Homo sapiens: one gene and its partners. The protein of the gene in region 2 interacts with the protein of the main gene of each other region in a pairwise test. Each region holds a gene or a part of one and is shown on either strand. Other genes may lie near its edges.

Region 1 (7,128 bases), on a different chromosome or scaffold from region 2:
CTAAACTGAGCAGCAGGTGCCTGGCTGATGCCCAGTCCCCACCAGAAGCCAAGCCTGGTGGGCCTTCAGCCAACCACCGCACGCCACGGACCGCCCAGGAGTCCCTGTCCCGAGCGCGCCGTCAGCCCCGTCCAGGGCCTGCAGGACGGAACCCGCCCTGCGCTCCACACCTGAGGCCGCTCCCTTCGCCTCTTCTCCTCAGGTGCTGTCCTTATTCCCAGCCCAGTCAAGAGCTACCGGGGCTGGCTAGTCATGGGGGAGCCCAGTAGAGAGGAGTATAAAATCCAGTCCTTTGATGCAGAGACCCAGCAGCTGCTGAAGACAGCACTCAAAGGTGAGCACGGGACCCCTCCTGAGCTGGGGTCAGGAGCTACAGAGAAGGGCCCCTGTGGGCAGCACCAGAGGCTGAGCCTGGTGAATGCCTCCACCCCTCCCCTCATTCTCTGACGATAGGAGTCGGCAACGTAATTCTTGAACTGGAAGACAAGCTACATTGAGGCCATTATTTTGGAGTATGAATCACAGTCACCTCTCAGACTGTAAAGACTGTTTTAAAAGTTTAACCATAGGGCTAGGCGCAGTGGCTCATGTCTGTAGTTCCAGCACTTTGGAAAGCCAAGGTGGGCAGATTGCTTGAGTCCAGGAGTTCAAGACCAGTCCCGGAAACATGGTGTAAACCCCATCTCTACAAAAAAAAAAAAAAAAAGAAAGAAAAGAAAAATTAGCCGGGCATAGTGGCAGGCACCTGTGGTCCCAGCTACTTAAGATGCTGAGGTGGGAGGATTGATTGAGCCTGGGAGGGTGAGGGTGCCATGAGCCATGATCCTGCCACTGCACTCCAGCCTGGCTACAGAGCGAGACCCTGTCTCAAAAAAAAAAAAAAAAAAAAAAAAAAAAAAGTTTAACCATAAAAAAAAGAACACGGCTCCTGCCCTTGAAGCGCTTACATTTGAATTGCTGGTTTCTGTGCTGCCATAGCCCCGTCTCTTGAATGCACAGTTGCCTGCTTTGAGACAGAAGATGGAGAATATTCCGTTTGCCAGAGGAGCTATAGTAATTGCTCTCGCCTGATGCCTTCCCGCTGTAACACGCAGTACAGAGGTTTGTCTTCAACTAATAATTAGCAACACCCATCATGTGTCAAGCCGAGCCTGTTGGGAGGCCCTATGTGGCCCTCTCTTGTTGGGGGTTTGCATGTGTGTAGTATAAGAACACTTTTTCTTGTGAAATTGCTGTTGGAGGCATGTCCTGGTCAGTATTCCTTCCTCAACCTAGTGCCAGGAAAAGATGTGTTTCCTGAGAAACTACATTCTTACTTTGATTGGTCCCTACTAGCCACATAACCCTCCCCATTTTCTCTGACTGGGCAACCAGAAGACAAGACAGCTAAAGCTGTTTGTATGGTTACTGTCCTCTGTACGGTTTCTTTTCCCTTTTTTTTTTTTGAGACAGTTTCGCTCTTCTTGCCCAAGCTGGAGTGCAATGGCACGATCTTGGCTCACTGCAACCTCCGCCTCCCAGGTTCAAGCAATTTTCCTGCCTCAGCCTCCCAAGTAGCTGGGGTTACAGGGGCCCGCCACCGTGCCCAGCTTATTTTTTGTATTTTTGTAGAGACGGGGTTTCATCATGTTGGCCAGGCTGGTCTTGACCTCCTGATCCTGACCTCAGGTGATCCACCCGCCTCAGCCTCTCAAAGTGCTGGGATTACAGGCATGAGCCACCACACCAGGCCCTCTGTATGATTTCTTTTATTTTTTTCTTTTTTTTTTTTTTTTTGAGACGGAGTCTTGCTTTGTCGCCCAGGCTGGAGTGCAATAGCATGATCTCGGCTCACTGCAACCTCCGCCTCCCAGGTCCAAGCGATTCTCCTGCCCTAGCCTCCCAAGTAGCTTGGATGACATGAGATGACGCACGAGCCACCACACCTGGCTAATTTTTGTATTTTTGGTAGAGATGGGGTTTCACCATGTTAGCCAGGCTGGTCTCAAACTCCTGACCCCAGGTGATCCAACCACCTCGGTCTCCCAAAGCGTTGGGATTACAGGCATGAGCCACTGCGCCCGGCCATGATTTCTTATAAGTACCATGCGCTAACCAATTGCACCACTGGAGCCACTGTCCTCTGTATGATTTCTGATCTCTTTCACTTCAAGCATATGAGTGCTCTACTGTAAATATCTCAAATTCTTAGAAGCGGGTGGACACAAATGTGATAAAGCAGCAGCTCTAGACTCCCCTCCTATCTCTACCCCTAGATCCGGGTGCTGTGGACTTGGAGAAAGTGGCCAATGTGATTGTGGACCATTCTCTGCAGGACTGTGTGTTCAGCAAGGAAGCAGGACGCATGTGCTACGCCATCATTCAGGTTGGGGGTTGGGAGAGGAAAGGAAGCTGCTTTGAGGAAGGTGCTTCAGGAGTGGGCAGAAGGCCTGGCCTGCAGGACAGAGATGCACAGGGTCTAGCTCAAAGAGAGAGAGAGGCATAGGATGGGTGGGGTTACAGGGGCACCGCCCCCCACCCTTCACCTTCCTCTCCCTGGCTCACAGGCAGAGAGTAAACAAGCAGGCCAGAGTGTCTTCCGACGTGGACTCCTCAACCGGCTGCAGCAGGAGTACCAGGCTCGGGAGCAGCTGCGAGCACGCTCCCTGCAGGGCTGGGTCTGCTATGTCACCTTTATCTGCAACATCTTTGACTACCTGAGGGTGAGGCCCCGGCAGCCACCCTGGGAGGCAGACATGGCCTGTTTCCTGAGGCCCAGGTTGGACTGCTCCCCTTGGCCACTAAGCCTGGTGCTCTGACCCCTCCTCTTCCTCACAGGTGAACAACATGCCCATGATGGCCCTGGTGAACCCTGTCTATGACTGCCTCTTCCGGCTGGCCCAGCCAGACAGTTTGAGCAAGGAGGAGGAGGTGGGTGGCCCCAGCCCTGGCACAAGCACAGAAGGCTGCAGGATGGACAGTCCAGCTCAGCCGTGTGTCAGCCCACTGCTCACGGAGGTCTCTGAGGACTGTGTCACTTCTGGGGCAGGACTGTGGGGGTGTTTAAGGCCTGTCAGTTATAGGACAAGCTGCCAGGTCTGGAGTTTATCCAATAGAGAGCAGCCAAAACCTACTGGCTCAGTAGCTTCCTTCTCAGTCAGAAAGCCAACGTATGATGGCAGCTGTGCAAGCCATGGCTAGCTGTGGGTACAGACGGCCCCAAAGCCAAACCAGGGTCAGGCAGTGTGTGGGAGGCAGGAGAGTGGGATGAAGAAGTGGTTTGGAGACAGGCTTGAGTGGAGCCTGGCCAGATGAGGGACCTCAGGCAAGTCCCGGAACTCATTTCTTTCTGTGTAAGATGTGGAAGTACCCACTGGATGGTAAGGAGGGAGCAAGGGAATGAGTGTAAAGGCAAAGCACAGCACCTGGCACTTGGCAAATGCTGTGTGAGAGGCTGGCACTGCCCCAGTTCACTTGTGTTACCCACACTGTCGCCTGCAGGTGGACTGTTTGGTGCTGCAGCTGCACCGGGTTGGGGAGCAGCTGGAGAAAATGAATGGGCAGCGCATGGATGAGCTCTTTGTGCTGATCCGGGATGGCTTCCTGCTCCCAACTGGCCTCAGCTCCCTGGCCCAGCTGCTGCTGCTGGAGATCATTGAGTTCCGGGCGGCCGGCTGGAAGACAACGCCAGCTGCCCACAAGTATTACTACAGCGAAGTCTCCGACTAGGCCTCCAGATCAGGGCTTCCTCACCAGCACTGGCCTTTCTTCTACCCACCTCTAAAGCTGGCAGTGGAGTCTCTGCCTCACCCAAAGACTTTTCCCTTCCAGACTTTGAGTGTCTTCCCTTCTAGACTTTCCCATCTCCTGGTGAGATGTTTCCCACTTATGCCGTGGTCCTGCCCTGAGCCCCTTTCCCCACCACAACCCACCACGGCCAGGCAGAGAAGGGCAACTCCCAAGAGCCACTGCACTGTGTAACCATTAGTGCAACTACTACCTTGGTGCCTCAGTTTACCCATCTGTAAAATGGGTAAGCATAGCCACTGGTGGGATATTTTGGGATGTCAAGGGGTGGAGGCAGAGCACAAGTCACACCAGAAACTGCTTTTTATACATTTTGTATAAGGACAACTCTGGAAACAAGCCTATTTCCTCCAGCCAGTTTCACTGAATGCTGCACCACATGCTACACCAGTTCAGCGTGAGAATTTTCTAATAAATCTTTTCTGATACTAAAACTGCTTCCTTTATATATCCAAAGGTCCGCCCCAACCTAAGGGAAGAGAAAACAGCCCTGAGTTTCCTGGAGGAAATTCCCAAGTCAATGTGCTCCCTCTTTACAAGGAAATAGGGGCAGAGAGAGCAAGTTCCAGCCTCAAAGAAAGAAGGATTAACGGATAGTGAATATGCTGCTACATCTTTCTTACGAGGCCTGCCCACCCTTACAAAGGAACTACATCCTTAACCCACAGGTAGTTTTCAGCGTGGCAGTAGCTCACACTGTTTCTTGCGGCAGAGGGCCCTGGGCTCCTCCTGGAGACTCTACCACCAGCGGTAGTGGGCCAGGGCACGGTTGGCCTCTGCCATCTTGTGCAAGTCATGCTTCCTCTTGATCACGGGGCCCTGGTTATGGAAAGCCTCCAGCAGCTTGTGTGACAGCTTCTCCGGCATCAGTGTCCGCTGGTGCTTTTTATCCCGGCACTCAGTGATCATCCACTTCATGGCTAGGAAGCGGCGACGCCGGTCGGGTAGGGGTACAGGGACCTGGGTGAGACAGGACATAGGCAAGTTGGTCCAAGAGTCTGCCAGGGTTTGGGGCCTCCTGCCTCCCTGAATTCTAAGGAGTAGCCACATGTTCCCTCTGGACCAGCCCTGGTCAGGCCTGGGGAGAAGGGCCTGTCTTTTCTTCGAGCTTCCCTCACCTTCAGGTGACCCCAGTGTAGCAGACATAAGAGGCGTTCATTCAGCAAATACTAATTAAGCACTGGCCTCTCCCGGCACTGTGGTTCACACCTGTAATCCCAGCACTTTGGGAGGCTGAGGCAGGAGGATCGCTTGAGCCCAGGAGTTCAAGACCAGCCTCGTCAATATAACAAGACCCTGTCTCCATATATTAAAAAAAAAAGAAGGCCAGGCACGATGGTTCACGCCTGTAATTCCAGCACTTTGGGAGGCTGAGGCAGGTGGATTACCTGAGGTCAGGATTTCGACACCAGCCTGGCCAATGTGGTGAAACCTCGTCTCTACTAAAATGCAAAAATTAGCTGGGCGTGGTGGCAGGCGCCTGTAATCCCAGCTACTTGGGAGGCTGAGGTAGAAATGCTTGAACCCAGGAGACGGAGGTTGCAGTGAGCCAAGAATGCACCACTGCACTCCAGCCTGGGCAACAGAGCGAGACTTCGTCTCAAAAAAAAAGAAAAAGAAAAAGAAGAAAAGCACTGGCCATTTTCCCTCCTAAATGGTAGTCCTACCAAGTTGTTATAAGAACCAAATAGGAAAAGCCCCATTAGCTGGGGTGACTAATCCACCTCAGACCATAGGTACCTAAAAACAAGACCCCTTCAGTCTTCAGACACAGCAAAACCCTGTCTCTACTAAAAATACAAAAAAATTAGCTGGGCATGGTGGCGGCCACCTGTAATCCCAGCTACTTGGGGTGGGCAGGGACTGAGACAGGAGAATCTCTTGAACCCGGGAGGCGGAGGCTGCAGTGAGCCGAGAGCTGAGATTACAGCACTGCACTCCAGTCTGGGCAACAAAAGCGAAACTCCATCTCAAAAAAAAAAAAAAAAGTTAAAAACAAAAAGACCCTATACAAACAGTTAAAGAAAACCAAAAACAAGACCCCGTGTCCAAAAATCATTTGTCAGGCCCTCACTATGCGTCAGTACCATGCCAGACACGAGAGTGCAGACAATAATGAAGTCCCTACCCCATGGAGTTGATATTGAAAAAGGAGAACACAAGAAAACTCAGGACAATAAAATATAATTAAATGCTATGAAAGAGATACCTAGTACTGTTCAGCAAACACTGATGAAGCATCAGTTATCGGTCAAGCACTATGCCAAACACTGGCATACAAAGACAGGATATGAATAGTCCCTCGCCATGAGAATTTTACAGGTTAGGACACACAGGATGCTTGACAGAAGAAGGCGAAGGGAGGTGGGCTCCCAGATGTCACTTAGATACTTCTTCACTCTCTTCCACCTTCTGCCTATAATTTTTACGCTACAGGACTCAGATGAGTGGACCGTAACAGTCTCAATTCTTTTTTTTTTTTTTTTTTTGAGATGGCGTCTTGCTCTGTTGCCAGGCTGGAGTGCGGTGGTGTGCTCTCGGCTCACTGCAACCTCTGCATCCTGGGTTCAAGCGATTCTCCTGCTTCAGCCTCCCAAGTAGCTGGGACTACTGGTATGTGCCACCACACCTGGCTAATTTTGTATTGTTAGTAGAAACAGGGTTTCTCCTTGTTGATCTCGAACTCCCCACCTCAGGTAATCCATCCACCTCGGCCTCCCAAAGTGCTGGGATTACAGGTGTGAGCCACCGTGCCCAGCCGTTTTTTTTTTTTTTTTTTCTGAGACAAGGTTTCTCTCTCTTGCCCAGGCTGGAATGCAGGGGCGTAATCATAACTCACTGCAGCCTTGACCTCCTGGACTCAAGTGATCCTCCTACCTCAGCCTCCTGAGTAGTTGGGAGCACAGATGCACACCACCACACCTGGCTAATTTTTTTGTTTTTTTTGTAGAGACGGGATCTCCCTATGTTGCCCTGCTGTCTCTTAACTCCTGAGCTCAAGCTATCCTGCATTAGGCTCCCAAAGTGCTGAGATTACAGGTGCAATCCCACTGCACCAGCTAGAAAGCTATCAATCTTGACCCAACTCCCAAGCACCACCTATCTTGTTTCACATGTGGAGGGCCCTGCTTTCTTGCCCTGGCCATTCATTCACCTGGTAGAAACGGCCTCCCTTGAGGATGGGTACCAGCCCAATCATAGGCTCACAGTTTTTCAGTGCTTGATGGAAGATGGTGTAGGGGTTGCGTTCGATGGTTGCCTGTTCCTCTGCAGAAGCGGCATGGTACTTCTCAAACTGCTTCCTTTTCACAGCTTCCAGAGTCTGCAAAAGAATATGGTGGA
Region 2 (12,484 bases):
ACTATTAATTCTGTGATGAGATTGTAGGGAAACACTCTCATTCTTGCTGATGGAAATATTAATTGGTGGCCGGGCACAGCGGCTCATGCTTGTAATTCCAGCACTTTGGGAGGCTGAGGCGGGTGGATCACCTGAGGTCGGGAGTTTGAGACCAGCCTGGCCAATATGGTGAAACCCTGTCTCTACTAAAAATACAAAAATTGCCCGGGCATGGTGGTGCATGCCTGTAGTCCCAGCTACTCGGGAGGCTGAGGCAGAGGAATCACTTGAACCTGGGGGGCAAAGGTTGCAGTGAGCCGAGATCGTGCCACTGCACTTCATCCTGGGCAACAGAGTGAGACTCTGTCTCAAAAAAAAAAAAAAAAAACACAGGCTCTTGCTCTGTCACCCAGGCTGCAGTGCAGTGGCTCAAACTCCTGGGCTCAAGCTGTTCTCCTGCCTCAGCCTCCTGAATAGCTGGGATTATAGGCTAATTTTTTAAATTTTTAGTAGAGACTAGGTCTTGCTATGTTGCCCAGGCTGACATTTGCAATTTTTGTCAGTATTTTCAAAGTCTTTTCCTTAGGTATTATACCAATTAATATTTCTGGGGTTTTTTTTTTTCTTTTTTTGAGACGGAGCTTTGCTCTTGTTGCCCAGGCTGGAGTGCAATGGCGTAATCTCAGCTCACTGCAACCTCCGCCTCCCAGGTTCAAGCGATTCTCCTGCCTCAGCCTTCCCGAATAGCTGGGATTACAGGCATGCGCCACCACACCCAGCTAATTTTGTATTTTTTAGTAGAGACAGGTTTTCTCCATGTTGGTCAGGCTGGTCTCAAACTCCCGACCTCAGGTGATCCACCCGCCTCAGCCTCCCAAAGTGCTGGAATTACAGGCATGAGCCGCTGTGCCCAGCCACCAATTAATATTTCCATCAGCAAGAATGAGAGTGTTTCCCTACAATCTCATCACAGAATTAATAGTCAAACTTTTAGAATTTGCCAATCTGATAGGTAAAAAATGGTAGACTATGTTTGCTAATAAGGCTGTATTTTAAAGTAGGGCTAGTAAGAGGTAACATATTCTGATCTGTCTGAAATTAGTCAAAATTTCTAGAAATTTAAAATTTTTCACCAGGTATAGTAGTTCATGCCAGTAATCCTAGTGCTTTGGGAGGCCAAGGCAGGAGGATTACTTGAGGCCAGGAATTTGAGAACAGGCTGGGCAACATGGCAAGACTCCATCTCTACGAAAATATTTTTGTTTTAAATTAGCTGGGAATAGTGGTGCATGCCTGTAGTGCTAGCTACTCAGGAGGTTAAGGCAGGAGGATGTGGTGGCATGCACCTGTAGTCCCAGCTAAGTGGGAGCCTGGGGTGGGAGGATCACTTCAGCTCAGGAGGTTGAGGTTGTAGTGAGCTATGATTGCACCACTGCACCTTAGCCTGGGCAACAGAGGGAGACCCTGTCTCAAAAAAAAAAAAATTTCTAGAAATAAAAATTCACTAAACATAAAGAAATGCCAACTATTTATATTTTGATTACTTAAAATAACTTTTCAGGCTGGACGCTGTGGCTCACGCCTGTAATCCCAGCACTTTGGGAGGCCAAGGTGGGCGGATCACTTGATCGAGGTCAGGAGTTCAAGACCATCCTGGCCAACGTGGTGAAACCCCGTCTCTACTAAAATTACATAAATTAGCCAGGCATGGTGGTGCGTGCCTAATCCCAGCTACTCAGGCGGCTGAGGCGGGAGAATTGCTTGAACCCAGGAGGTGGAGGTTGCAGTGAGCCAAGGTTGCGCCATTGCACTCCAGCCTTGGGCTACAAGAGGAAAACTCCGTCTGAAAAATAAAAAAATAAAATAAATTTCAGTGTATTTATTTATATTGTCCCACATTTTTGGTGGTTCTCATATTTGCCTTTCTAATTATGACAATTGTTTTCTTGTGTAGGTATTATCAAAACCAGTACCACTGCCGAGAAAACAGATGAAGAGGAGAAAGGTAACTACTTTTGGATGCCCTTGGCAAGAGACGGTATGACCCAGGGCTTGCCTTCCTGGAGCCAGGGGCACTCCAAGCTACAAGATCCAGGAGATGAGAGGAATCAGAGAAGGAATAGTCAGTGAGAGGAGGAGAACAAAACAAGTCCGAAAGCGGTAGCTCACACCTGTAATCCCAGCACTTTGGGAGGCCGAGGTGGGAGGATTCCTTTGGGCCAGGAGTTCAAGACCAGCCTGGGCAACATACTGAGACCCCATCTCTACAAAAGATTTCAAAATGAGCTGGGTGTGGTAGCACACACCTGTACTCCCAGCTACTTGGGAGGCTGAGGTGGGACGATTGCCAGAGCCCAGGAATTCTAGACTACAGTGAGCTCTGATTGCTCCACTGCACTCCAGCCTGGGTGACAGCAAGACCCCATCTCTAAAATAAATAAATAGAGACCTATCAGTGTGATGGTTTTTCTCCAGCCGTGCTTGACTGCCCAGGTGCTAGTGTGGAGAGGGAGAAAGAGTGGCTTCATAAGCCTGGGGTTTGCCAGATGAGTATGAAGATCTACTGGTTTCTTCCTGACAGAGGACAGAGCTGCCCAGTCCTTACTCAACAAGCTGATCAGAAGCAACCTTGTTGATAACACAAACCAAGTGGAAGTCCTGCAACGGGATCCAAACTCCCCTCTGTACTCGGTGAAGTCGTTTGAAGAGCTTCGGCTGTGAGTATTCGCTCCTTTCAACAGCTCTTCGTTGCCAGTCTCTCCCCACATAAAACTTAGCATCTGAGAGATTCTTGTGAGAATTTTACTTTTAAAAATTTAGTGTATTTTTTCCTTTTTTTTTTCGAGACAGAGTTTCGCTCCTGTTGCCCAGCCTGGAGTGCAATGGCGTGATCTCAGCTCACTGCAGCCTCTGCCTCCCGGGTTCAAGCGATTCTCCTGCCTCAGCCTCCCAAGTAGCTGGGATTACAGGCGCCCACCACCATGTCAAGCTAATTTTTTGTATTTTTAGTAGAGACGGGGTTTCACCATGTTGGCCAGGCTGGTCTTGAACTCCTGACCTCAGGTGATCTGCCTGCCTCGGCCTCTCAAGGTGCTGGGATTACAGGCGTGAGCCACCGTGCCTGGCTATTTTTTTTCTTTGAAAAGAAGTCACATGAATAAGTCACATGATTCAAAAGTCAAAAAGTATGAAAAAATTTGCAGTATTAATCTCCCACCCTTGTGTCCTTGGCTATCCTGTTCTCTTGGTAGGAATTTTTTAATGCTTCAAATTGATTTATCATAGCTAAAAGTCTTATTTCTCTTATACTCTTAGAACTTTCAATAAAATATTGGCTGACAGGTGATTTCTGGATGTCAGGAACATTTCTGATTAGGTAAGCCCTTAAGTGAGAACATGTGCTATTTGTTTTTTTTTTACAAAAAAAAAAAAAAAAGGCCAGGCACAGTGGCTCACACCTGTAATCCCAGCACTTTGGGAGGCCAAGGCAGGCAGATCACAAGGTCAGGAGTTCAAGACCAGCCTGACCAACATGGTGAAACCCTGTCTCCACTAAAAATACAAAACTCAAAACTTAGCCAGGTGTGATATCACAGGCCTGTAATCTCAGCTACTCAGGAGGCGGAGGCTGAGGCAGGAGATCACTTGAACCTGTGAGGCGGAGGTTGCAGTAAGCCAAGTTCGTGCCACTGCACTCCAGCCTGGGCAACAGAGCGAGACTCTCTCTCAAAAAAAAAAAAATATATATATATATATATGTATATTTAGACTATAGGGTTTACAGTCTTACAGTTTATCTGCTTTTTAAAAAATCTGTCAAATCTGTTTTTGGTTTGTTTTTTTTTTTTTTTTTTTTTTTTTTTTTTTTTTTTGAGACCAAGTCGTGCTCTGTTGCACAGGCTAGAGTGCAGTGGCGTGATCTCAGCTCACCACAACCTCCACCTCCCAGGTCCAAGCGATTCTCCTGCCTTAGCCTCCCGAGTTAGCTGGGACTACAGGCGTGTGCCACAACACCCAGCTAATTTTTGTATTTTTAGAAGAGACAGGGTTTCACTATGTTGGGCAGGCTGGTCTCGAATTCCTGATCTCATGATCTGCCCGCCTCGGCCTCCCAAAGTGCTGAGATTACAGGCATGACCCACTGTGCCCGGCCTTACGTTTTAGGTTTACTTCAGTAAATTAATAGAGGATTAAGTGTGGATCATTGTGTTATATACATGCCACTGTGCTGGATGTTACAAGGAACACAAGACCTACTTATTATTCTTGCTGCCTGCCAGGATCACAATCATAGAAAGTAGCTGATGAATAAGAATATGGTGGAATCAATGGATTCTTTGCCTTAGTTCAGCAAAATCTATAGTATGGCCACTATGGACAAATTGAAGCCACATTCCTTCCAGCTATTACCACTGAGAAAGAGACACTTAAAACAAGAAAGCTAACTAGTTGTTAAGTAATCTTGAAGAACAATTTTTTATTTTTATTTTTTATTTCTATTCATTTATTTATTTACTTTTGAGACTGTCTCACTCTGTTGCCCAGGCTGGAGCGCAGTGGCACAATCTTGGCTCACTGCAACCTCTACCTCCCGGGTTCAAGCGATTCTCGTTCCTCAGCCTCTCACGTAGCTGGGATTACAGGCCTGAGCCACCACACCTGGCTAATTTTGGTATTTTTAGTAGAGACAGCGTTTCATCATGTTGGCCAGGCTGGTCTCAAACTCCTGGCCTCAAGCGATCTGCCCGCCTCAACCTCCCAGGCTGCTGGGATTACAGGCATGAGCCACTGCACCCAGCCTTATTTTTTTATTTTTAAAAATAGAGATGTGGTGTCACTGTGTTGGCCAGGTTGCTCCTGAACTCCTGTGGTCAAAGAGTCCTCCTGCCTCAGCCTCCAAAATTGCTAGGATTACAGGTGTGAGCCACTGCACCTGGCCCAATAACTTTTTTTTTTTTTTTTTAATAGGATGAGGTTTTACCATGTTGCCCAGGCCAGACCAAAAATGTATTTTTAAACAGTTATACTTTAGGTCGGGCACGGTGGCTCACGCCTATAATCACAGCACTTTGGGAGGTCAAGGCAGGTGGATTGTCTGAGGTCAGGAGTTCGAGACCAGACTGGTCAAAATGATGAAACCCCATCTCTACTAAAAATACAAAAAAATTAGCCGGCTGTAATGGCACATGGCTTGTAGTCCCGGCTACTCAGGAGGCTGAGGTAGGAGAATTGCTTGAACCCAGGAGGCGGAGGTTGCAGTGAGCCGAGATCATGCCGTTCGTTGCACTCCAGCCTGGGAGATAAAAGCGAAACTCCTTCTCAAACGGAAATTATGCTTTTCTATGTGTTTTCTCTGTCAAGGACTTTATTCACCAAATCTGTCATCTCCACTTTTATTTTTAAGCTGTATCAGGACAGCTAGACATGTGGTATGATTTCCTTAGAGTGACAGTTTGCTCCTCCAAGTATCAACTGCCTTTTTAAATTTCTTCCCTTTAGAAGACGTGAGCTCTCAGTTTAACCACTGATGAATTGTCCTCTGTAAAAGACAGGTTCTCTCTGATTTAGTTGTTGGTAGGAAAAGGAAACAAAGAATGAAACCAAGATCACCTAATGTACTTGGTCTGCTTTGTACCTAAAATATTTGAGTTAATCTGCAAAATCAAAGAAAACTGAGTCAGTGGAAGCTGTTGGATCATTTGAGTCCCAATTAAGGTAGTGACTTTGTTTCCTTGGCAACCAAGTCAGAAGCTGCCGAGTGTCACAGCATTTTCTCCCAAATGGAAGATATGAAAGATTATGTTTTTAAATTTCTTTGTGTCTGAGAACCAACATACGCCAGAGAATTTGCCTTTTAGAGAGCCTGCTAAACTCCAAGGAAGGCTTAGAGAACAGTTGGGTTGCCTTTTCTTTAGAAACAATCTGGTATGATTTTTCTTAAACATCTTGTCAATTTAGAGGTAGCAGAGAGCTGATTGTAAATGCAATGTAAGAGCAACTTAAATTGATAATTCTTGTGTAGCTGTTTACATAAGAAGTTGGTGTCCAGGTGCGGTGGCTCACGCCTGTAATCCCAGCAGTTTGGGAGGCTAAGGTGAGTGGATCTCTTGAGCTCAGAAGTTCATGACCAGCCTGGGCAACATGGTGAAACCTTATCTCTACAAAAAATAAAAAAAAATTAGCCGGGTGTGGTGGCATGTGCCTGCAGCCCCAGCTACTCAAGGGTGGGAGGATCTCTTGAGGCCTGGGAGGTGTCGGTTGCAGTGAGCCCAGTTCACACAACTGCACTCCAGCCTGGGCGACAGAGTGAGAACGTCTCTCAGAAAGAAGTAGTTAGTGTTTGTCTGTTTATTTTGATTAGACCTAAGTGAATCTGAGCATTTGTAAAGTTTAGTAGGTTAATCGAACCACCTTTATTTACTGTATATCAGCTACTAGAAACTGGCTTCATCAATTTTCTTTTTTTATGGCCGGGCGCTACAGCTCACGCCTGTAATCCTAGCACTTTGGGAGGCCGAGGCAGGTGGATCACCTGAGATTAGGAGTTCAAGACCAGCCTGGCCAACATGGCGAAACCCTGTTTCTACTAAAAATACAAAAATTAGCCAGGTGTGGCAGTATGCGCCTGTAATCCTAGCTCCTCAGAAGGCTGAGGTAGGAGACTCGCTTGAACCCAGGAGGCAGAGGTTGCAGTGAGCCAAGATCACGCTATTGCACTCTAGCTTGAGCAACAGAGCAAGACTCCATCTCAAAAAAAAAAATTTTTTTTTTCTTTTTTCTTTCTTTCTTTCTTTTTTTTTTTTTTTTTAAGAGATGACCTGGCCTTGTTGCCCAGCCCAGAGTGCAGCGGGGCAATCATGGCTCGCTATAGTCTCTAACTCTTAGCCTCAGGCAATCCTCCTGCCTCAATCTCCCAAGTAGCTAGGACTACAGGTGCATGCCACCATGCCCAGCTCATTTTTCTTTTTTGTTTTGTTTTGTTTTGTTTTGTTTTAGAGACAGGGTCTCACTGTGTTGCCCAGGCCGGTCTTGAACGCCTGGACTCCTCAAGCAGTCGTCCCACCTAGGCCTCCCAAAGTGCTGGGATTACAGGCGTGAGCTACCACGCCCAGCCCATCAATTTCCTTACCTATTGATTGTCTGGAGTATTTGCATAGCTGGCTTTGGAAGGAACATGGAACAAAAGGACTTCTAAATCTTAGCAGTATAGTAAATAGTGTTTATTTTCATTTATTATTTACTTTAGAGTCCCACTCTGTCACCCTGGTTGGAGTGCAGTGGCTCAGTCACAGATCACTGCAGCCTTGACCTCCTGAGCTCAAGTGAGCCTCCCACCTCAGCCTCTTGAGTAACTGGGACTACAGGTGTGTCCAGCTATTTTTTGTATTTTTTTGTAGAGACGAGGTATCACCATGTTGCCCAGGCTGTTCTCGAACTTCTGGCCTCAAGCAGTTGGCCTGCCTTGACCTCCCAAAGTGCTGAGATTACAGGCATGAGTCACTGTACCTGACCTGTTTTTAGATATATCTTTTATAATTTATGTAATGCTATGAATTAATAACCACCACCCTTGCTGTGTCCAGGGAACACTTGTCTTCCAAGGCCAGCCAGATTTGCGGGTCTGCTGAAAGCATTAATTTCTCTAAGAAAAGAAACCATTCTGTATTTTATGAATTATAGAATAGTTGCAGATTAAGATTCCTTAGGGAAGGGCGGTAGCTTGGTTTGATTTGGTTTGGTTTTTGACAGTGTTTTTTTAAGGCATAGGAAAATACGTCTGACAGAGGTAGGAGGCATCATTCCTTTCTATAGAAAAAGATAAGATTCTAGGCCTCTAAAACAATTCTAACTTCTAGGCATCCATCCTCTGTCTTCCTGGCTTCCTAGGAAACCACAGCTTCTCCAGGGAGTCTATGCCATGGGCTTCAATCGACCCTCCAAGATACAAGAGAACGCATTACCCATGATGCTTGCTGAACCGTGAGTATGCAGATGAAGCGCATCTCACCCAGTGTGATTAGATCAATCTTCCCCAAACTGCGTTTTTGTGCCTGAGAACAGAAGGAGCTGTTTGGGGCCACGTGTTTCCTCAGGAATACAGCTTAGGCAAGTGCAGAGAGAATCGGATGGAGTTAGCTACAGTTTCTGCCTTTCCCACTTAACAATAGAAACTTATAGAGAAAGGTAGTGCTTTATTCCATGCTATCTTAAAAACTGGGCTTAAGGCCGGGCATGGTGGCTCACTCCTGTAATCCTAGCACTTTGGGAGGCCGAGGCGGGCGGATCACCTGAGGTCAGGAGATTGAGTCCAGCCTGGCCAACATGGCAAAACCCTGTCTCTACTAAAAATACAAAATTAGCTGGGCACGGTGGCCCAAACCTGTAATCCTAGCACTTTGGGAGGCCAAGGTGGGCGGATTGCCTGAGCTCAGTAATTCGAGACCAGCCTGGGCAACATGGTGAAACCCCGTCTTACTAAAATCAAAAAAAAAAAAATATCCAGGCCTGTTGGCATGTGCCTGTAGTCCCAGCTACTCAGGAGGCTAAGGCAGGAGAATTGCTTGAACCCGGGAGGCAGAGGTTGCAGTGAGCCGAGATGGTGCCACTGTACTCTAGCCTGGTGACAGCAAGACCCTGTCTCAAAAAAAAAAAAAAACTAAACTAAAAATACAACAATTAGCCTGGCATGGTGGCACGTACCTGTGGTCATGTAGCTGAGGCAGGAGAATTGCTTGAACCCCAGAGGCAGAGGTTGCAGTGAGCCGAGACATGCCACTGCACTCTAGCCTGGGAAACATAGACTCTGTCTCAAAAAAAAAAAAAAAAAAAAAACTGGGTTTAAAAAATATTATTTTGATGTGAATGGTGTTGCAATAAATTCAAAAACAAACAAAATATTATTTGGAAATTTTTGAGACCTACACAAAGGTGTAAAGAACAATACCAAGAACACCTCTGTAGCCCTATCCTGCCAAGAAAGGAAGCAGGTCCAGTTGATAGTTGAAGCCCCTGAATTCCCCTCCTTCCACATCCTTCTCCCACCCTGACAAGACTAAGTTCCTTTTGAGACAGGGTCTCATTCTGTTTCCCCATCTAGAGTGCAGTGGTGCAATTACAGCCCACTGCAGCCTCGACCTCCTGGGCTTAATTAATCCTCTCACCTCAGCCTCCGGAGTAGCTGGGACTATAGGCATGTGCCACCATGCCCAGCTGACTTTAAAAAAACTTTTTTGTAGTTTGAGAAGCTGAGGCAGGTGGATCACTTGAGGTCAGGAGTTTGAGACCAGCCTGGCCAACATGGTGAAACCCCGTCTCTACAAAAAATACAAAAAAATTAGCCGGGCTTGGTGGCGCACACCTGTAATCCCAGCTGCTAGGGAGGCTGAGGTGGGAGGATCGCTTGAACCCAGGAAACAGAGGTTGCAATGAGCCAAGATTACACCATTGCACTCCAGCCTGGGCGACAGAGTAAGACTCTGTCTCAAAAAAAAAAAAAAAATTTGTAGAGACAGGGTATCACTATGTTGCCAGGGCTGGTCTCAAACTCCTGGCCTCAAGTGATTCTCCAGCCTCAGCCTCCCAAAGTGTTGGGATTATAGGCATGTGTTACTGCACCTGGCATATTTATCATTTTTTCTTTTTTGAGATGGAGTCTCCTCTGTCGCCCAGGCTGGAGTGCAGTGGTGCAATCTTGGCTCATTTCAACCTCTGCCTTCCAGGTTCAAGTGATTCTCCTGCCTCAGCCTCCTGAGTAGCTAGGATTACAGGCGCACACCACCACACCTGGCTAATTTTTGTATTTTTTTGTCTGTTCGTTTGTTTTTGGGATGAAGTCTCGCTCTGTTGCCCAGGCTGGAGTGCAATGGCGCGGTCTCAGCTCACCGCAACCTTCGCCTCCCGGGTTCAAGTGATTCTCCTGGCTCAGCTTCCCGAGTAGCTGGGATTACAGGTGCCTGCCACCATGCCTGGCTAATTTTTGTATTTTTAGTAGAGATGGGGTTTTACCACGTTGGCCAGGCTGGTCTCGAACTGCTGACCTCGTGATCTGCCTGGCTCAGCCTCCCAAAGTGCTGGGATTACAGGCGTGAGCCACCGCACCCAGCCTAATTTTTGTATTTTTAATGGAGGTGGGGTTTCACCATGTTGGCCAGGCTGGTGTCGAACTCCTGACCTCAAGTGATCTGCCCACCTTAGTTTATTTATTTATTTATTTATTTATTTTTTTGTGAGATGGAGTCTCGCTCTGTCGCCCAGGCTGGAATGCAGTGGCGCAACGTCTGCTCACTGCAAGCTCCGCCTCCCAGGTTCATGCCATTCTCCTGCCTCAACCTTCCCAGTAGCTGAGACTACAGGTACCCGCCACCACGCCCGGCTAATTTTTTATATTTTTAGTAGAGACGGGGTTTCATTGTGTTAGCCAGGGTGGTCTCGATCTCCTGATCTTGTGATCCGCCTGCCTCGGCCTCCCAAAGTGCTGGGATGACAGGCGTAAGCCATATTTATCTTTTTTAATGACAACCATGCCACCTATTCCCATGATGCTGGGTCCCATAAAATGGAATGTAAAAGTTCCCTCTAAAACATCCACCTGACTTAGCATCTTGTCCATAAAACTGGGGAAAGGCACACACAGAAGGAACCAAATTCTGGGAATGCATCATGGCTCAGCCAAAAATATTGCTGGGGTCTTGTCTGGGCACAGATCTTACTCTGCACACTTGATTTCCCTGTGCCCCTTGGGGTGCAAAACTGGGGTCCTTTAGCTGTGCTAGAGGCTAGAATGAGAATTTCTTGGTGTGAGCCCATTTAAAATAATCATTTATTTTACAATTTAAGCAGCTTTTTAACAGCGTATAAAAAAATGTATGAAAGTAATTTGTGCTCAATGGAGAAAACCTGGGTAATATAGAGAAGCACGAAGGGGGAAATATGCCTTTCATTCAGAAAGAACATTTTGACATGTTACTGAGTTTCACCAATTTAAGTTTCATTTCTGTTCTTCCTTGATCCAGCCCACAGAATCTGATTGCCCAGTCTCAGTCTGGCACTGGTAAAACAGCTGCCTTTGTCTTAGCCATGCTCAGCCGAGTGGAGCCATCAGACAGATACCCCCAGGTGAGGGCTTGCGGGGCTGGGTGTCCTAGGTTGCCTGCCCTGGGGAGCGCAGTGCCATCTGGTGAGGAGTAACGAGAGGTCTGAAGCTTCTGACACCTTAGGCTGTGGCTCAGGCAGAGCAAGTTCCTACACCAGGCCCTGACCTGGGAGAATGTGCTTGAAAGCAGCAGCCTTAGACCATGGCTTGCAAAGGCCTCTGCCAAGCCAGGGCTACCTGCTGCAGGCTTCAGTCTATGGCTGAAAGGTGGGCCTGGATGGGAGGACATGCTTCCCTGTGCTATTCAAGTGCTAATAACATCAGCATACTGGGTGCCTTCAGGTCTGTTACCAAATGGCTCTCCTAAACTCATCCTTTATGATTTTTCTGTCAGTGTCTGTGCCTCTCCCCAACATATGAGCTGGCGCTTCAAACAGGAAAAGTGATTGAGCAGATGGGCAAATTTTACCCAGAACTGAAGCTTGCCTATGCCGTTCGAGGCAATAAATGTGAGTACGGCAGGCGACAACTGAACAGTGAGCAGGGTAGGGGGTTGGGCGTTTGAATTTTGAAGATGCGATGACCGTATTCAACTTTCTAATTCAGTCTGACCCTGGAGCCTAACTGTGTTGCTCTATTTGAATCTATTTGAATACCTGCTAATTTGTTAACAGTCTTTTTCAGTCTTAAAATAAGATTTTCGGTTGATTAAAAAAAAAAATCCACGCATGGCTCACAGAGTTCTTAATATCTAGAGTTCTTCGCTCAGAAGGTAGAGTTTTGAATTTAGCGTCCAGAGTTCTGGGACCTGCTACCAAAGAGGGATTAACAGGACTGAGGATGGAAGGTTGGGGTCAGCTCCCTTTCTTTAAAAGTAAGCAAAACCAGGTACAGTGGCTCACACCTGCAATCCCAGCCCTTTGGGAGGCCAGGGTGGGAGGACTGCTTGAGCACATGGTTCGAGACCAGCCTGGGCAACATAGTAAGACAAAAAATAAAAAAAAAAAAATAGCCAAGCGTGGAAGTGCCAGCTTGTAGTCCCAGCTACTTGGGAGGCTGAGGCAGGAGGATCGCTTGAACCTGTGTGGTCAAAGCTGCAGTGAGCCATGACTGTGTCACCGCACTCTAGTCTGGGCAACAGAGTGAGACCCTGTCTCAAAATAAATAAATAAATAAACATAAAAAGAGTTGGATGATGTTGGATTATAGGAGGAAGAAGAAGGGAACTGATGCTTATTGAAGGATTGCTGTGTGGGATTTGATCCTGACCACAGTGCACTGAGATAGGTGTCATTCTGCCCACTTCACAGCAGAAGAGACCAAGACTGAGGGGAACACTCATGTGTGTTTTGAAATCTGGAAATAACTTGTTCTCCTAGTCCTAGAAGGATGGGCAGGGCTTTGATTTCCAGA
Region 3 (12,484 bases), on a different chromosome or scaffold from region 2:
TCCTGCCTCAGCCTCTGGAGTAGCTGGGGCTTCAGTAGCAATGCTGCCACACCTGCCTATTTTTTTTTTCAAAGATGGGGTCTTTTTATGTTGCCCAGGCTGGTCTCAAACTCCTGGCCTCAAGCAATCCTCCTGCCTTGGCCTTGCAAAGTGCTGGGATTACAGGCATGAGCCATTGCTCCCAACCATGATATGGATTCTTGATTTTCCCAAGTTTTTGAGCCTTACACCCTATTTAGGATGTGGCATGGCATCCAGAAGCTCCAGCTAGCCTCGTGATGCTGGGTCAATCTTGCAGCCTCACTGAGCCACTTTCCCCATGTATAAGCCTGGGGAGGGATCCCTGCCCTGGAACCTACCTCCGATTCACACACAGGAAAGTGCTCAGAAGAGTTTCAAAGCCCCTCATGCCCCAGAGAGCATTGGTACCCATGACTGATGGCTCCATGCCTCCCTTCCACAGCCATTTCCTGAGCATCTACTATGAACCATGAAGCCAGGAGCTGGGGACAGCCGATAACTCAGCCAGGATTCTGGCCATCTAGGAGTTTAAAACTTAGACTCCAGGAATCGATATCAGTCTCCCTCCTCCCTTCCTATGTAAAAGATAAGAGTTAGGAACTTCAAACTTCTGACAAAGGGGAATGACTTGATTTTCCAGAGACCTTGAGAGAATCACAAGAGAACGAGGTTTTCCCCTTAGGAAGAGAGTTAGAGGAATGGCCCAGTTTTCTTCCCAAGCCTGAAAACATGGGACAAGGAGAAGGGCAGGAGGATGGGAGAAACGGGTAGAAGTGGGGGCAACACACACATCCAGGATGAGGTATGGGTAAGATACATCTTCAGGCTTGTCTCACACTTGAGAGATTCACTGATAAGGAAAGCCAAGCCAGAAAATCTTGAGTGCCCCTTCTGTGCTAAAGTCATTCCCAGAGATCCCACAGAGTCACCACTCAACTGAGCGTCTATGTATGAAAAGCCCAAAACACAATGCTTGATGATGACCCAGCCAGAAACTCTGAAGAGTTTCTCCGCTCTTTAGCTCAAGGTCAGCTTTTTAACAGGCTGTCTTCTAGAAGGTGCTAGAGAAGAGCAATTTATTTTGAAATCTGGTCACACACCAGATTCTGATTTTGTGTTGTCTTTTCACAACAGGCCTGCTGTGTTTATGACTTGGTTGAGACAAACTTTTTTTTTTCAAAAAAAGGTATCGCATCCTTCTGTTAGATGTGTTGTTGGCAACGGTTGCTAGGGAGAGCTGGGTTCAGTTACAGACACACTGATGCCGGCTCTAATAATACTTTGCTCTGCATAGCTCGGATGCAGACACCTCTTGGCTAAACAGAGCACACACATTTCAACAGAGGAGGGCTTGAACTTGTACTACCCAAGCCTGTCTCAGCAAAGGAGCATTCCCAGAGCCCACGTGGACGTCCCGGGGCAGTGACAGGGCAGTGCTGGGTGGAGAGGGCTCAGGCTTCCATTCCTGTCATTCCAAAGGTCCCATAAAAAGAGGCACACTCGTTCTTCACTTCTCTGTGAAACTGGAGCCCCTTCACCGCCCTGTATCACACCACAATTCCCTGATGAGGATCCAAGGAAACTTTTGGTTCCTTCTCTAACCCAGGCACCCTGGGCACCCCACATTCTCCTGGAAGTCGGAAACAATCAATGCACATCATCTAGTTAGTCAGTCTAGTCTGCAGTCAGGACCCTGCAAAGCCAGAGAAGTTGGGAACCTTGGTGGGAAGGTGTATGGGGAGACAGGCTGAACTGCGAAGTGTGGCCCAGCCTCTGGTACAGCCTGGCACCGTGGGTGAGAATGAGGCCCTTTTCCTAAAACATGTGATAGCTGTTCCGACACACATCCCAGGCCAAGGAAAAGGAAAATGGGAAAAGGAGCTGAGGACAGAGAGAAATGGAGGCAGCGGGAGAGAAGAGGTGGCTTTCATCTCATCAAGGAGGAGGTTCAGGGTGATGACAAGAAGAGCCTGAGGCTGGGGGAGTGGAAGGCATGTTCTCAGCAGCTGAGGCCTCCTGTGTAATGGGGTTCTCCTGCCAGCTCAGACTCGGAGTTTTCCCCCATGGCTCAGCAGAGAGCCCAACACCTGGCAGGTATTTCTTGACTGGTTCGCGGCATGACAGGCAGAGCCAGCTGATTCATAAGTGGCCGCGATGAACCAGTTCGGTGTCTCTGGGGTGTCTCCTCAACAGTGGTGTTCCACCCTGGCTAACGAATGCCCAGGTTGCGTCCTTGGAGAATCTAATTCAACTGATTAGGGGTAGGCCCCCTGCCTGCTGTGTTCTCATGATTCTCATGCATAGCGAGGCTGAGAACCACTGACCTAAAGAAGAGCCAGTATCTGAAATGCAATATTCCCAGGCCAGACCTCCACTCTGACCATCACACTGATGACAGACTGTGCCTTAGTTTGCCCATCTATGAAACAGAGCCACCACCTACAAACCATCAGTCATTCAATGCCTTGTGACTTCCCACTGTGGTCCCTGGACTAGAGCACTAGCATCTACCAGGAGCATGTTTGAAACGCAGAATCTCAAGCCCATCCCAGGCCTCTTGCATCAGAATCTGCATTTAAACAAAATCCCACGTGATTCATATGCACATTCCGGTTTGAGAACCCCTGACCTAATAAAGACAACATGCTTGGCACATTAAGAAATGTCTGTTTTGTTGTGGGGTGGGGGGAGGGGGGAGGGATAGCATTAGGAGATATACCTAATGTTAAATGACGAGTTAATGGGTGCAGCACACCAACATGGCACATGTATACATATGTAACTAACCTGCATGTTGTGCACATGTACCCTAAAACTTAAAGTATATAAAAAAAAGAAAAAATGATTAAAAAATAAAATAAAATAAAAAGTAAAAAAAAAAAGAAATGTCTGTTTAATAAATAGAATTTTACTTACAAGGACACTACTAATAAAAGGGCCACATTTCAGGTAAAAAGGAATTGGCTTGGATGTAAAAACTGAAGACCATTTTGGAGCTGTGGGATTGGTGACGGGGTCCTCTGAGACCCCAAGGTCTCCAGCACTGTCATGGCTCATGAGAATGGTGCTTCTGGGTTCCTTGAGATAGCAGTGTTGAGTCTGGCTGGGAAGGGTTAAAGGACCTTAAACCTTCTCCCTTCTCCCACCCTGCACTTCCCACTCCATGGGGGCTGCACCCCAGCTTGGCAAGAGCCCTCAGACCTCTGCTGCAGAATGTTTACCACATCTGCGGTTGCCCCTCTCCCTCCATGCTGCCGGCTCCCATCACTGAAGCCCTGGCAGCAAGAGAAGTCAGCCAGGGAGAACCAAGTGTAAAGACCACTGCTGGGAGCTGTGCTAAGGAGGCACTTCACACCCTGGCCCCTTTGTAGCCTGCATTGCTAAGCCGGGGCCCAGAACTTGTGTGTGGAAGTGGTAGCTGAACCTGATCCTATGGGGGCATCTCGGAGGCTGCCAAACCCAACCAGGTGCTGGTTGGGGACCGAGAGCCAGATGGGCCTTGAGTGGATGGAGCTGAGTGCAAACCTCAGGGAGGAAGCAGGGGGCAGGGCTGTGCAGGCCGGGTCTAGAACTGCCTGCCAGGAAGGGATGCAAACATAGTTTGCCAGAAAATGAAGTCAGGTGAAAAAAGACATCCCTGGAGGTGTTAAGAGGGAAAGCAGGTTTTGCTGAGCCCAGCCCATCGCTTTCTTTTCTTGCACCTCTCGGGTTTGGGTGGTGAGGGGCCATGAATTATGCTGTCCAGAAAAGCCCACTCCACCTCTGTCTCCTTGGCTGCAGAGAGAAGGCACAGGGCCTGAGGAGGCTCAGCCAGATGTGGTTCAGGTGTCCTCTGGGCCTTGGAGTCAGGGGGCCATTGTGGGATCAGGGCAGCCCCGCACCAGCACAGTCCACCCGCCTTCCCATGGCAGCTGAAAGGGCCTTGTCTAGCCACCCAGGAGGTCTGAGAACGCAGATCAAGCCTCTGGTTATACTCTCAAGGGGCTCCCTCCTCGGCTCACATGAAAGCTGGGACTGCAGGTGGTAAACAGGGGTGAGTGGTGGCCTATGTGGACATTTAGATTTCTAAAGACCTGACCCGCAGATACTCCACCCAGGCAAATGGCTGGCTTCCTCCACTGTGGGGGAGGAGAGGAGGAGCTGCTCTGAAACCTCAGAATGTGAGCCATGACTGCCTTGGGTGGGGGGTTCCCTTCTTGCCCTGGACTTCAGCTGTCCCTGCAGGCCCCTAGCCCGGGAGAAGGGAGGCTTCCAGCGCCTTCCTTTTCAGACATCCATTTCTCCTTGACGACCGAGGGCCCTCCAGCACCAGGCACTATGCAGCCCCTGGGATACAGAGGTGCAGAAAGTAGAGGGGTTCCCACCTCCCAGAGCCCAAGATGGGGGGCAGTAACGGCACGCACCCCAGTTTGTCACTGTGGATTCATGTGGCCATTGGTTTAAGTTCAACTCCTTCACTGCAAACCTTTTAAGGACAAAGCTGTGCCCAGTGACTGACTGCTGTATCCTCAGTCCCCAGGCTGGTGCCTGGCACACTAGAAATACTCAGTGAATACTAGGAGGGTGACTGAACATTGTGGCTGCAGGATGAGAGGTGCTGGGACAGGAGAAGGGCCAGTGTTTCCTGGAAAGTGGGGCCCTAGCACCACCTGAAGTAGGAGTGTGAGATGCTTCAGGGGGAGGTGCATGCTCAGAGTGGGACAGAGAAGTGAATTCTGGGGGAGAGTTCGTCCATGCAGGGTGTACTGGGAGGTTCAGCCTGGCTGATGGGGGGTGGGGAGCAGGATGTGGAGTGCCAGTTCTCTGCTCCAGAGACAAGGTGGCACCTGCAGAACTAGGTCTCTTGGGCTGGTCCCAAAGCCTGCATCACTCATGACAGACCTACTATGGAGCCACTATATGGGGTGAGTGGGTTTGTGAGGACTCAGGGGGACCCAGGACAGTTTCCTACTAGTGGCAAGGCCTCAGGAGCATGAGAAAGGGAAAGGCTCACACGGGGTCCCTCGTGCCCCTGCCCGAGACCCCGGCTCATCTCCAGTAGTGCAAAATCGAGGGTACACTGATGAAGGCTGTTGCTTGCACTTTCCCAGGGAACTATAGAGGCCAAGCTCCAACGGATGACAAACGAATCAGGTCTGGAATCCTTGCTTCCCAGCTTTCAATTTTGTGTTTTCTTCCCTGCTGTAGTGTTTGCCAAACTGTCTCTCAGCACACTAATCCCACAAGTAGTTCTTAACTGGGGAATGCAGAGGACTTTGTTGAGTTAAACGGAGCCAAACAGGTTCCCTTCCTGCTGGGACATCTGGAGCCTGTCCTAAACCAGTGCACGTTGTGGTTGATTGAGAGGTGAGTGCAGGGGCCATAGGGCCCCCTTTGTGGCTGACTGTTCCCCAGGATTGATGGTCCGCTGGACACTTGTGGGTGAGGCCACCCTTACCACGGCAGGTTGGAAGAAATACCCGATCTGAGATGGCCCCTGCAGCCAGCTGCCCTCCCCAAGTGCCCCATGCCCTGGGTGCCTGTCTGCCACCGGGTCTGGCTGGGTTACTTGGAGCTGGCAACCACTGTCTAGAACTCTTGCCCCATCCTGGCCCTTTTTTGAAAAACAAAACCCAAAGCCGAGACCATAGGCTGATGCTGTCCCTGACTCCCCTGTGCCGGGTGCTCTCTGGCAGACAGGCTTCTCTGCCCGCCACTCTCCACACGCTCCCAGGACATTCCGGCCCGCGAGGAACATGCCCCATGTGCAAATCCCTCAGGTAATGCGGGAATTCGTCACCAGGGGAGTGCGGGCGATCCAGGAATGGGAACCTGATCAGGGCCTGGAGCAGGAGAGAAGCAGCCCAGGCTGGCCAGGGAGGGCTCATGTTGCAGTGAGTGCAACTCACATGCAGAGGAGAGGGTGGGTGGGGATGGAGCCCTGCCGGCTGCATGTAGAGGTGGCCTTAGCGGCAACTTCCTCCCAGCTTTTAGGGAAGACGGCAGACTGCGAACCACATGGTTAAGGTGAGGGTGGCCATATGCCCTTGTTTACACCTGTTGTCTAGGCATAATTATGAACTGAACCCCCTTTGACTTTCACAAGTGTTGCAGTTTGGATGATCTATTGTATGGTCACCCTAGTTAAGATGGCCCTATAGCCTGCCATTCTACTTCATTACTTGGAAACTACCATTTTATCTCATCTGGACCAGAAACTCACTTTGTATCTTAACTAGTCTCTAAAATACAAAATAGGAGGAAAGGAGACATGGCTCTCCCCCAGCCAAGAGTCTCCAAGGACAGTCCCAGGACCTGATGTGGCCACCATCCCATGACCCTGCTATCTCTCCCTGACGTCACCAGTTTTGGGGCCACCAGCTCATCTGCTACTGCCCATACAGGCAAGCAGGTACTTGTGAGATGAAACATTGCTAAGCTCCGTCCAAGTGCACGCGCCTACTCCCACGACACACTCATGCTGATAGAACCACTGGACGTGGGCCTTCATGGAGGAAGCAATGATCAGGGGTGGGGTTACACTGTCAGAGGTGAAGGGATATTAAGAGGGAAAGAGCAAGGATGAAGACAGTCTTGCATCACCGTGACTTCCCTCTGCCCAGGAGCCATAGTGTGTTGGTAAACAGACTATCCCTTTTCTGCTCATGTGTGGCTTTACTCAAACCCATCTCACTACCAGTGATGATCAACTGCATATCTGCAAAGGTCTAAGGACCTAGCCCTGGGTGGAAGGAGGAGGAAAAGAGAAGTCCACAGCAAGTTCATGTCTGCTTGGATGTAGAGAGGTCAAAGCACATAGCCAGGTTGAGACCAAGAGCCAGCCTCTTATGAAAATAGAAAGTGGGAAAGGCTGGTTAAACATAAAGCACCTATAAAATTATATTGGTCCATTGTAACCAGGGAGCCCACACATAAACACACACAAATCCAGCCGCTCATTCCTGGCCCCTTAACTGCCTTTGTGTTTTCTATAATTAATCGGGCAAGGGCGGAACTTGGGAAAAGTCCAACTGTGGCCAGAACTCGCAGCCTTCTCGCTAGGAATAACTCACCGAACGCAGAGGGGCAGGGGGCGCGGGGCGGTGGTGGCCGGCGTCCAGTTACCTGCAGCATGTTGAGGAGCAGGCTCCGGAACTTGGTCCCCTCCACCATAAAGAGCGCCATCTTGTCGCAGAGCTTGGCAGCGGTGAAGGCGAAGCTGCGGTCGGACACAGCCTTCTGGTAGATTGTGCGCACGATCTCGCCCAGCATCTCCTCGGAGTTGGTGGAGTTCTGGGCCTCCTCCATGAAGGTGGTGAGCTTGGTGTCCACGTCGCTGCTGTTGTTCCGCATGCTGTTCAGGATCTCGATCAGCTTGTCCATCTTGTTCTGCTGGGGAGTGGTCGTCTCCACGGCCACTTCATCCTGGGGGTGTCGGAGACAAATGAATGTGCCTGAGTGAAGCCGAGGTCTCTGTGCAGGGGTGGCCTGGTGGAAAGAGGGTGGCCACCCCCAGAAAGCAGGACCAGGCCTACTTCCCTGGATCTGAGGGCTGGTCCCTCTGGGAACCTCCACCAAAGACCCCTCATGCGCCAAAAGCTCCTTGTTGCCTTTTTTCTTGGCCCCTATGACATCCAGGGCTGATACTGTTTTTGGGTTCTAGCTCCTACCCAGGATTCTCATATACATTGGCTTTTTTTGTTTATTTGTCCATCAAATATCTTAATCTAGAAAAGATTTAATGGAAATTATGAAAGAGGAAATAAGATAACAAATATGAAATCGGGCCAAAGAGAAAATGAGGGTAGGAAGACTTGGTCAGGAAGGCAGGTCAGATCCAAAATGCCTGCAGTGGTGGTTAAAAGCGGCCCAGGCAGTGGCCACCTTGTCCCCTACACCCTCAGCTCCAAATGCCCAATGATGACTTGTTCTCTGGGCATAGGGCCCCCTGTGGGCACAGCCCTGGCTTTTTGTCCTGTGGAGACTGTGCTGGTCTTCTGTAGACATATGCCACACACCAAGGAATCCTCCCATGTGCCACTAAAACAGTTGGGCTTCTAGGAGGGATATTACAAGTAAAAAGCCCTACAGCCTTATGAGATTTCACTGCAACTAGGACCAGACCAGGGGCTTGAAGAAGAAAAAAATGTCATCTTATTGTATTGACTCATTCTTGGTGGCCAAGAATGGGAACAACTTAACTGCAAGGAAGTGAGATCTGGCTGGAAGGGCAGGGTCAGGGTCATGAAATGAGATCCAAGCTTGGTCTTCTGTCCCTGACAATAGAAGCTCTGGCCTAGAAGGCACAGACCAAGGCTCTAGATCCCACTCTCTGCCTCTAGCTGTGTGGCTTTGGGTAAGTGATTTCACTCTCTGGGCCTCAGTTTCCTCATAGGTAACACAGTGAGGTTAGACGAGAAAATCTATAGCTTTCCTTGAGCCCTTCCATGGTGGGATCAAGTTCCAAGGGCAGCTAGTCTCTGGCTTGAGAACCAAACACTCAGGAGGCTGAGGCAGGAGAATGGCATGAACCCGGGAGGCGGAGCTTGCAGTGAGCCGAGATTGGGCCACTGCACTCCAGCCTGGGTGACAGAGCGAGACTCCATCTCAAAAAAAAAAAAAAAAAAAAGAAAGGGCTGAATCCTGGGTGAAGGAATAGGGTGGCCTAGTTCTTCTCCTCAAACCCAACCACCTCTTCAGGGAAGGCTACTCTGAGTCCCTGGGTAAAGTTAACAGGACACAAATCCCCACCCCAAGAGACATCTCACGCTTTACCTGTCTCTTGAAAGAGAGAAGGAAAGTGTTGCTCTCCCTGATGAAAATGTTTAGGATGTGGCTGGTTGGCCACCTAGGATTTACCCTTTTTTAGAGTGAGCAACTAGCAGAGTGGGGAGTGACCCAGCCTGAGCCTGAGCCCATGTCTTCTTGGTCCAGGAGTTCAGGAGGCCTCACCTGAGTGGAGTCCTTGAAACTGATCTATAGGTGCTATAGATCTACCTTCTCTGTTCCATTCCCCCATGTACCCCTCTCTTCCGACCATCTGGGCCCCAGGGCAGGAACAGTGGTCTGCATATAGAATAGGAATACCCACAAGAACATATCTGTACACGTTATTTCATTTAACCTTCACAGTCTCTCAGCAAGGTGTGTAGTATTAACACCCATTTTACAGATGAGTAACTGGGGCTCAGGGAGATTAGGTGACTTGCCCAAGACCACCCATCCAGTCAAAGGCAAAGTGAGGTCTGAGCCTGCTCAGCTGCGCTCTAAAGCCCGTGCTGTTTCCACTCTGCTGCCCTGCAGTTACATTTAGCAGAACTCTAGAGGACTCGGTGGAGAGGATACTGGGAGCAGCATCTCATCTTCAAGAGTGGATCCAAGAAGAGGTCTGACCTGCCTTATCCTGCCTGAGTGTGGACCCTGGGCCTGGCCTCTGGGGCAAGAGCTTGAGGAGAGTCGGCAGTAGGGGAGGATGGAGGAGAAGCCCAGAACATGGAGCTCTGCGGAAGCCCCAGGAGGAAGCCTCTGTAGGCCCTGCTGCTGTGTGGGAATGGCTGTGGGCAAGTTGGCCTTTCTTGGGACAGTTCCTCTCCAGGGTGACCTTTCCTGTGCCCCTGCTGGGCAGTGGGGTCGGGGGTGGTGGCACTGGGGTGAGCACAATGGACTTACTGCTGCAAGTACAAATCCCCATCCCTCTTCTGGAGGTTTAGGGTCATCTCCTGAAGCTACAGGCCAGGCCAGGACCAGGGTGCAGAAAGAGCCTCCTGGGAGCAAAAGTAAGGAGGCCTCACTCTCGGGTTCATGCTGGCACAGGTAGGCACCTGCGTGATGCTGAGAATGGAGCCACCTTACGGTGTGCACTGTAGAGCACTCCCTGGCCTCTGGGTGATGAAGGCGGGAAACAGGAAGGCTGGAATCAGCCTGCCCCCACTCTGAACAACTCACCTCTGCTCCCCATTCTGGCAGAGACCACTGCCTGGATGGTACTCACCTGTAGAAAAGCTTCAGTTCTTATTTCATAAGCTCCATGTTTCCCCAAGTGCTCTTCAGCACAAACAATATCTAACCCTAGAATATGCTCCCTGCACCTCCCCCATCACTCCCAGGCATGCATCTCTTCCCCCTACTCCCTTGGGCTGGGGGCTGGTTCCAAGTGCCCACCCTGGGCCTCTTGGAGTTTGGAAGGTGAAAAGCCCAAGTGTGCTGGAGGGGTTCATGATGGCCCTACCTGCTGGCAGTGGTGGACCAGTGTGGTTGGTCCCCACAGTGACCGAAGCCCCTGCTTCCCTGTACATGGCTCCCTAGACCCTCAAACCCACAAGGCTCTGCACTGTGCCCACCTACCAAAGTGCCTACCTCTTGCTGTCCTCCCTGGTGCAAGAGAAGAACAAAAATTCAATTACCGGTACCTTTTCCTTTAGCCTTCGCCGCAGTCTGTCTTTGGAAGACTGGAGCAGGGTAATTTTGGGCCGCTCCCCGATGCGCTCGGGAAGAATACTGTCTTTACGTTTTGTCTCAACCTCTGGCCCCCCTGACTGCTGTGGGGGCAGCCGCTCAGAAGCCACCGGGGCCAGGGTGTCAGGGCTGCGGGGGGCCTCAAGGCTGCTGTGCCCGGTGTCCCCTGCAGTGTCCTCCAGTTTTGGGTTCTCGATGGTCATGGTCTCTTTGGCATTGCGGTGTGCGCCTGCCTCCCCCTTGTCGCCTGGTGGGTGCTTCATGTTGCCATGGTGCCAGCGCCGGTTCTGGCTGTAGCCATGGTGAGTGGGCCTCCCTGAGGGGTGGGGTGCTGAGCCCCCCTGGTAGGATTTCTGGTGGTCCCTGTTGTGTTTGGCACTGCCTGGCTGGTGGTCACCATGCTGTTGGGGCTTGTTGCCCCCCGGAGGTCTCTGCTGCCGCCTGCAAACGGAAGAGGAAAGACAGAGAAGGCGATCACTGGGCGGGCTGGTCAGAGTCCCTGTGCCCAGCCGCCAGAACAGGAAGTCATTGCCTTGTCCATATATTCATTCTTCCAACAAACACTTCCTGAGCACCTTCTACGTGCCAGAGTCTGTGACAGCCCCTGGGGATACAGCCGAGAACAGGCAGACCGGTCCTTGCTACTGCAGAGGACCAAAGCCAATTCTTTCCTTAAAATCAGTACTTTATTCGCTTACTAGAATATGTGTGAATGCAAGCATGTGGAACAAAATTAAAAAGATCCAGTAGCAGATAACAGTGAACCCTCCTGCCTCTGACTCTGTCATCACATATGGCCTTTGGAAGCAGCCGTTCCACGTGTGTGAATCTTCCAGACATATTCTATGCATGTACCAGCAAAGATGCATACGCAGACCTGCTTCTTACAAGCACCTTCCTATGAATGACTGTTCACCATAATGTTTTTTGAAAAGTTATATCCCTTTCAAACAACTTTTTTTTTTTTGGAACATTGTCATTTTCACCCCCAAACCCACAAACTACATATGCTATAACAAGTTTTCATGGGCTAAATTGTGTCCCCCATCCACCCCGCAAAACTTCATATGTTGAAGCCTTAACCCCCAATACTTCAGAATGTGACTGTATTTGGAGATAAGACATGATGGATCACCTTTAAAGAGGTGATTAAATTAAACGAGGCTGTTAGGATGGGCCCTAATCTGAACTGACTAATGGCCTTATAACAAGAGGAACCTTTGACACACAGAGACACCAGGGAGGCTGCATGCCCAGAAGAAAGACCACATGGAGACACAGCAAGAAGGTGACCATCTGCAAACCAAGGAGACAGGCCTCAGAAGAAACCAACCCCACCGACACCTTCATCTTGGACTTCCAGCCTCCAGAAGTGTCAGAAAATAAAATGCCTCTTGTTTATGCAGCCCAGTCAGTGGTACTCTGTTACAGCAACCTAGCAAACAGATACAGAAGGAATATTTAACATGATGGGTGTAGGTCAAGACAGGCTCATCTGACAACACTTTCTAAGCACAGGGAACAGGTGTGAGTTGTGCAGCAGGAACAAACCCCAAACTTTTGAGTTGTGGCCAAAAGGCAAGTGAAGGGGTGGTGAGGGACATTCTCATGACCCTTCTGGCTGGCTCAAAGGCTGCTTCCTGCCACTGAAAGCACTACTATGTTCAAACTCCATTTTACCCTCAGGGTGTTTTCCATGCCACAACTTTACTGGAAGTGCAGTTGGAGCACAAGATAAGCATGAATTCTGCAAAGGTTGTAAAATAGTGGAAAGATTTTGCAGAAAGATAATGTTAGCTTCTAAAGAATAAGCGCTGCACCTCCTCCGTGACCTATCTTGGGTACCACAGACCTTCATTGCATTGCATGTTATGAACAAATTGTATTTATTTACTTACAACTTATTGCTTATTACTTATATAAATTCAATTTTAATATTTACTTGATACATTTTTATCTGTGAAAAATTGAGGGTATCCTGGGTTGGGGTTAAATGCATTATTTTTTTCCACTAAAATGAATAAAATTT

What was found.
Region 1: the proteins of DDX19A (region 2) and MIF4GD interact in binary tests that used the Homo sapiens proteins (3 or more experiments, as listed by UniProt).
Region 3: the proteins of DDX19A (region 2) and CTIF interact in binary tests that used the Homo sapiens proteins (3 or more experiments, as listed by UniProt).

The regions. Positions count from the first base shown.
Region 1 is NC_000017.11:75,263,320-75,270,447, reverse strand, and holds the end of MIF4GD (MIF4G domain-containing protein), read left to right. Parts: intron 1-202; 5' UTR 203-252; coding exon 253-334; intron 335-978; coding exon of another isoform or gene 979-1,101; intron 1,102-2,255; coding exon 2,256-2,365; intron 2,366-2,546; coding exon 2,547-2,702; intron 2,703-2,817; coding exon 2,818-2,910; coding exon of another isoform or gene 2,911-2,997; intron 2,998-3,480; coding exon 3,481-3,708; 3' UTR 3,709-4,220; downstream 4,221-7,128. Other genes in the region: MRPS7 (small ribosomal subunit protein uS7m), read right to left, coding at 4,525-4,746, 6,941-7,108. UniProt on the Homo sapiens protein: Functions in replication-dependent translation of histone mRNAs which differ from other eukaryotic mRNAs in that they do not end with a poly-A tail but a stem-loop. May participate in circularizing those mRNAs specifically enhancing their translation.
Region 2 is NC_000016.10:70,353,552-70,366,035, forward strand, and holds part of DDX19A (ATP-dependent RNA helicase DDX19A), read left to right. Parts: intron 1-1,933; coding exon 1,934-1,984; intron 1,985-2,560; coding exon 2,561-2,696; intron 2,697-3,294; exon of another isoform or gene 3,295-3,332; coding exon of another isoform or gene 3,333-3,355; intron 3,356-7,866; coding exon 7,867-7,959; exon of another isoform or gene 7,960-8,085; intron 8,086-10,991; coding exon 10,992-11,094; intron 11,095-11,465; coding exon 11,466-11,580; intron 11,581-12,381; exon of another isoform or gene 12,382-12,460; coding exon of another isoform or gene 12,461-12,484. UniProt on the Homo sapiens protein: ATP-dependent RNA helicase involved in mRNA export from the nucleus.
Region 3 is NC_000018.10:48,756,331-48,768,814, reverse strand, and holds part of CTIF (CBP80/20-dependent translation initiation factor), read right to left. Parts: intron 10,897-12,484; coding exon 10,410-10,896; coding exon of another isoform or gene 10,404-10,409; intron 7,426-10,403; coding exon 7,126-7,425; intron 7,120-7,125; exon of another isoform or gene 1-7,119. UniProt on the Homo sapiens protein: Specifically required for the pioneer round of mRNA translation mediated by the cap-binding complex (CBC), that takes place during or right after mRNA export via the nuclear pore complex (NPC).